2 separate regions of the Homo sapiens genome follow, and region 2 is linked to region 1. A link means that fine-mapping ties the variant in region 1 to the expression of a gene that starts in the linked region. Tissue or cell type: thyroid. Region 1 holds a variant in brackets; the other region holds the start of a gene. All regions are shown on one strand. Distances are between the middles of the regions. Region 1 has its middle 82 kb from the start of XYLT1. Region 2 holds the start of XYLT1 (xylosyltransferase 1).

Region 1 (2,890 bases):
CAGTGGCACAATCTCAGCTCACTGCAACTTCACCTCCTGGGTTCAAGCGATTCTCCTGCCTCAGCCTCCCGAGCAGCTGGGATTATAGGCACACGTCATTAGGCCCAGCTAATTTTTGTATGTTTAGTAGAGACGGGGTTTCACTATGTTGGCCAGGATGGTCTTGATCTCCTGGCCTTGTAATCTGCCCGCCTTGGCCTCCCAAAGCGCTGGGATTATAGGCATGAGCCACCACACCCGGCCATAACAATTATTTTATTCAACCTGCCTTATGAATGTAGGCAAAAAGCATCCAACTCCAGTTTCCCAGGATATCACTCATTATCCCAAAAGATGTGGCAGCAGCCTAGAAAGCAAGTCTGTTTTAAACCATAAAACCTCCCCTTTGTGAGCAGGAGACCTTCCGCACCACGTCTTCACACACACATGGAGCAACAGTACTTTGTGTTGCCTGTTGCGGCTGTAAAGAGGTTTTCATGCACACTGGCCCATTTGATTATCTAAGCAGTCCAGCTGGAAGGTCAGGACCATTCATACCTGAGGCTTTGGAACATCCTGACTTGCCCAAACCTGCTCAGCTTATAACCGCCACCACCACAAATCAGGAATTCAGCCATGTGTGGATAGACAGTCTTATTCAATCTTCCCCAAAACATAAGAAAGTGCTGTGTTCTTTTCCCTTCTAGAGAAAAATAAACTAACCCTTAGGAAACACGCTACCTGACCCATGCTCAGACAGTTAGACAGTACTGGAACTGGGTCTTGAACCCACACTGCCTCCCTCCCCAGGCCATGTTTGTAACCACAAAGCTAACTTGTGCTGGGCTAAGACAGACTTTTAACTCCTTGAATCTTGACTCTTTTTGCCGCATGACCTGGTTTGGTTCAACAATGGCAATTTATCTCTATTTAAAAGCAGATGTTGGGACGGGCATGGTGGCTCACGTCTGTAATCCCAGCACTTTGGGAGGCTGAGGAAGGTGGGTCACCTGAGGTTAGGGGTTTGAGACCAGCCTGACCAACATGGGGAAACCCCGTCTCCACTAAAAATACAAGAATTAGATGGGCGTGGTGGCGGGCACCTGTAATCCCAGCTACTCGGGAGGCTGAGGCAGGAGAATAGCTTGAACTCAGTGGGAGGAGGTTGCAGTGAGCCAAGATCATGCCGGTACACTCCAGCCTGGTTGACAGAACAAAACTCCTTCTCAAAAAAAAAAAGGAATGGATGCTGGCTGGGTACACTGGCTCACACCTGTAATCCCAGCACTTTGGGAGGCCAAGGCGGGCGGATCACTTGAGGTCAGGAGATTGAGACCATCCTGGCTAACAAAGCGAAACCCTGTCTCCACTAAAAATACAAAAAATTACCCAGGCGTGGTGGCAC[A/G]CGCCTGCAGTCCTAGCTACTCAGGAGCTACTGAAGCAGGAGAATCACTCGAACCTGGGAGGCGGAGGTTGCAGTGAGCCAGATGGCCCCACTGCACTCCAGTCTGGGTGACAGACGTAGACTCTGTCAAAAACAGAACAAAACAACAAAAATGATCTTTTAAAGTTACTTACTATCTAGGATACCTGCTAGGCTGTAGGCTCCGTCTGGAAGTGTGTGACAACTTAGGTCCTTGATAAGTATTTGCCAAGAAGGAGAAGGGATGGGTAGATGGGCTGGGCTGTCTGCAAAGTTGAAGCTCACCAGACCCCAGCTTCCTTCCTTCTGGGATGCATGAAACAGAGAAGTGTCAAAATGTCCAGCAAGGTAAATGACTTCCTGCTCCAAAGCATGGAAGGCTCATTTTCACCCCACTTAGCAGTGAATTATGTTACCTGCTGGTGAGGACAACTCCAGGAGGCCCGTAATTAGTTCCCTGATTATTCACAATTGAAGCGATCACGGCTAACTGATGGTGTTCCCACAAAAACCTGTAGGAGAGCCAGGCCATTTGGCAGCAACTGCGTTCCCAACAAGGCAGATCAATTTCCGTTTGATTTGTTTAAAAATAACAGATAAACAATGCGGAGCAGCTCGCAAGGTTTGGGTTCCTCCTTTCCTAAAATTTGAGGAAAGGAGGCCGTTTGAAATTACCAGTTAGGAATAAAACAGGCAGATCACATTCGTGGCTCAATCGGATTCCCCTATAATCAGAGCTAATAACTGTATTTTTCTGCTACTAAACAATTCTGTTATTTTAAAGCTAACTATACCGAGCTGGCTAAATAATACTCAGGGGCTGGCCACAGAGAAGACTCCCTCTGAAATGCAGCGATGATGCCCACTTTTTCCTACTTTGTTCTAATTTTGTCCCCAGCTGATGGGTGACCTGCTGACTCTTGCTGGGAGAGAGGCTGGAGGGATGTCCAGGGAGATTTTTTAAGAAACCTAGAATCTCACACCTTTCCCTGGAATACAAAGGGAACCAACCCATGTTTCCTTGAGGATAATGAATTTTAAAGGCTTCTCGACCTGGATTCACTCATAATCTGAGCTCTTCCTTGACCTCTGCTATTTTCCAAATATCTAAATTCCGTCCCTTTCTCAGCTAAGTCCTTCAATGACTTCCCACTGCCATTAAGATATGCCTAAGCCACTTAGGTGGCTGGCATGGCCCTGTCTGCCGGTCCCTCACCTACTTCTCTGGCCCCAAATTCCTCCATCCACCCGCAACTCCCTTTCCTTCATGTTCCCACTACACTGAATTATGATCTGCATGGAGCAGCATGATAGAGGCTATGGACTCTAGCAGCCAGGGTGCCTGCTTCTAACTCTAGCTCCACCATTCATCAGCTGTGTGACCTGGGGCAAGTCATGTGACCTCTTTGGGCCTCAGTGGCCACATCGATAACATGGGAATCATAGAAGTACTTGCCCTGTAATGTAGCTGTGACCATAGATGCATTA
Region 2 (2,887 bases), 82 kb before region 1:
GCTGGGCAAGGCAGCCCAGAGAAGGTGGGAAAGGTATCCCTGGAGAAGTTAGGGACAGGGTAGGAAGACAAGTCAGTTCCCCACCCAGCCACCCAGATGGCCCCAGATCTGCGGAAAAAACAGTTTCAGAGCCCTGACTGTTCACACCCACGAAGGGCAAAGTAATCCCATAGGAGTGGAAGCCCTGACGGTGTGGTCGGACACACAGCTGGTGACCTGAACCGGCCGCAACAAGACAGAAAGACAGAGACAACCAGCTAGGAGAAGGAGCCATGCCCTGAAACTGGAGATGGGGAGGAGATAAAGTCACAGAGGGCATGGGAGACGGCAAGGTTAGAGACAGAGAAGGTGAAGACGGAAGGCTCAAACATCCAGAGAAGAGAAACAGAAGACCCAAAGTAAGACCAGACACCCCGGACTGAGTATTGATTCAGGGGCATGGTCGGGGACTTGGGACGCCCAGCTCAGCCCTCATCGCAGGCCAGGACGAACAGAGGGCTCAACTGTCTGCACCCAGCTCGGCAAAAACCAGAGAGATGCTGCTGCGACAACCGCCCAGGAACAGCGGCTGAGGATCCGGGGAGATCCACTCACTCAGGCAGGGAGCGAGTCACCAAGACCTACACGCACGGAGCAAGTCACCTGGGGTCCCCAGCAAGAGTGATGGGGAACAGGAACCCAGCCAGGCTCCGGTAACCCCCAAAGCGCCCCCGCTGGAGAAAACTTCCCCCAGACCCCAAGGGGTCCGTGCTCAGACTCTGAAAGGGGCAGCCCACGACCCCTGAGCCTTGGCAGGGACCCCACCCGGCTTCCCGGGGCAAGAGGCGATGTGGAGTCGGTAGGCTTGCAGAGTCCCAGTCTGATGACCGAGTTCAAGGGCTAGGGGGGCGTGGGGTCGGGCTGCCTTCCTCCCTCCCTCGCCGCGGGGCGCGAGCCGAAAGGGCATCTTACCAGAGCCCGGGCGGGCAGTGCCCCCCGGCTGGCCGGCTGCTGTCCCCGCGGTTCTCCGGGGCCGCCTCCCCGCGCCCGCGCCTGGGGCCCCCGTCCTCCTCCTCCTCCGCCGCCGCCTCCTCCTCCTCCTCGGGCTGCAGCCGGCTCGGCGGGCAGGTCCCGGCGCTCCCGGCGCGGGGCCGGGGCCGGGGGCGGCTGCTCCCCGCCGCCGACCGCTGCGCCCCCGCGGCGCTCCCCGGCCCCGGAGTCGAGGCTGCTGAAATTCCACACGACCAGCGTCTGCAGCAGCAGCACCGTGAGCGCCGCGAGCAGCGCCGAGTGCGAGCGCCGGGCCAGCCTCCGGGCGCACGGCGCCGCCACCATCTTCGGAGCGCGGCCGGCGAGCGAGGCGCGGGGACCCCGGCACGCTCCGGGCCGCCCCCGCGCTCCCCGCAGCTCCCGCGGCCGCCGGCTGCCGCTCGGGCTCCCGCTCGGGCCGCCGCCGCCGCCCCCCTCCCCACACCCCTGTCCCCGCTGGAGGGGAGGGTGATGGGGAAGGCGCCGGGGGGACGCGGGCCGAGGCGGAGAGGGCGGGGCCTGGGGGAGGAGCCGAGGGAGGAAAAGGAGGAGGGAAAGGAAGGGGGTGGGGGCGATCAGAGAAGACAGACACCCCTCAGGACGTAGTGGGAGTAGGATGGGGGGCGAGGGGGACAATTCCCAAGGCGGAAAAAGAGAGGCAGGGGCCGCGAAACAGGGGACCTTTGGTTGAGGGTGGGCCCGCTCAGAATCCAGGGGAGGTCAGGAAGAGAGGGGGTCCCGAGGTCCTGTTTTCCCTGTGGGCCGCTGGAAGGAGGCAGTGCGTGGAGGAAGCTCCTAGCCCCGGAGTTCGCGGTCCAGGGATCTTCTGTCGGTACCAGACCGGTTGGCAGGTGGACACGTGAGAAACATTTCAGGAGTGTCAGAGCCACAGTCTGATCCCTTCATCCTGGGCTTGAAGGGGTGGGGAGGAGGCTTTGGGTGAGTTTCTGGAGTTAATCAGCACAAGCTCTGTGAGTGACTCCTGAATCACACACAATCCCCGGTGCCAACGATGTACTAAGTGTTCACTGAGTCACTTCTCTGGTCCCTGAGGACTCACAAGCCAAGAGACTCCAAACCCAGTTGGCAAGTGGTATAGCGGCAAAAGGGAGACCCGTGGAGTTACTCAACCTTCGCAGGATGCAAGCCCCAAAGGCTGGCCCCGCAGCCTCCCAGCGTGTCCTTTTCCCCATCCATCCTGAAGTCCCCCTTCCTGTCTGCACAGGGCCCAGGTCCTGGGGAAACAGGTCTTGCTCTTGAAAGTGGAGTTCTTTCCCATCCTGACTGGTCTGTCCCGGTGACCTTGAGCCAGGAGGAGGAGGACTCCTCCCTGAGCCCAAGCTTTCTCCTCTGTCGTTTAGGCAGAATGATCCCAATGGACTCAAATTTCATCCCGAGCCTTCTCTGACTCAGTCTTTCTGGTTTTTCCCTCCCTTGTCCTCTTGCCCAGGGCTTTATACACAGCAGCGCAGAACAGTGAGCATATGGGATGGCGTTGGTGTCCCATACGGGACCTAGCACTCTGGGAATACAACAGCAGATCAAATCAGTTTGTGAATTGAGGACTTGGCGTGAATGCTTCGCATCTTGTCTGCTGTGCTTTTTCACCTCATCCTAATTTACAAAGAGAAGAAAGTGGAGTGTAATGAAGGCTCATCAGACAATGAGGCAGGGAGTGGGAAGAGATTGTTTCATCCACTCCACAAGCATCCGTGAATACAAAGCTTGTGTCAGACACTGGGCCAGGTGCACGCATCCAAAGGTGAATGAGGTTTAATCTCATCTTCAGCAAGCCTGAGGTCTAGAGAAGCCTGATGTGGATGTTAATCATTAAAATATAGTGAGATAGGCCTGGGCGCGGTGGCTCATGCCTGTAATC

The links.
Region 2: XYLT1 starts here. The variant in region 1 is fine-mapped to the expression of XYLT1 in thyroid (GTEx, PIP above 0.99).

The regions. Positions count from the first base shown.
Region 1 is chr16:17,551,977-17,554,866 of GRCh38, forward strand. No RefSeq gene overlaps it. Among named protein-coding and RNA genes, the nearest start is that of XYLT1, 82 kb to the left of the region's middle. The variant A/G (reference allele first, on the strand shown) is at 1,385.
Region 2 is chr16:17,469,483-17,472,369 of GRCh38, forward strand. XYLT1 (xylosyltransferase 1) reads right to left here and starts at 1,478. Exons shown (of 12, transcript NM_022166.4): 1 at 952-1,478. The coding sequence starts at 1,314. It overlaps LOC107987234 (a long non-coding RNA gene), which reads right to left and starts at 945. Exons shown (of 2, transcript XR_001752091.2): 1 at 1-945. It overlaps LOC105371106 (a long non-coding RNA gene), which reads right to left. Exons shown (of 3, transcript XR_933144.3): 3 at 1,525-2,622. RefSeq lists enhancers at 258-527, 648-697, 1,472-1,973.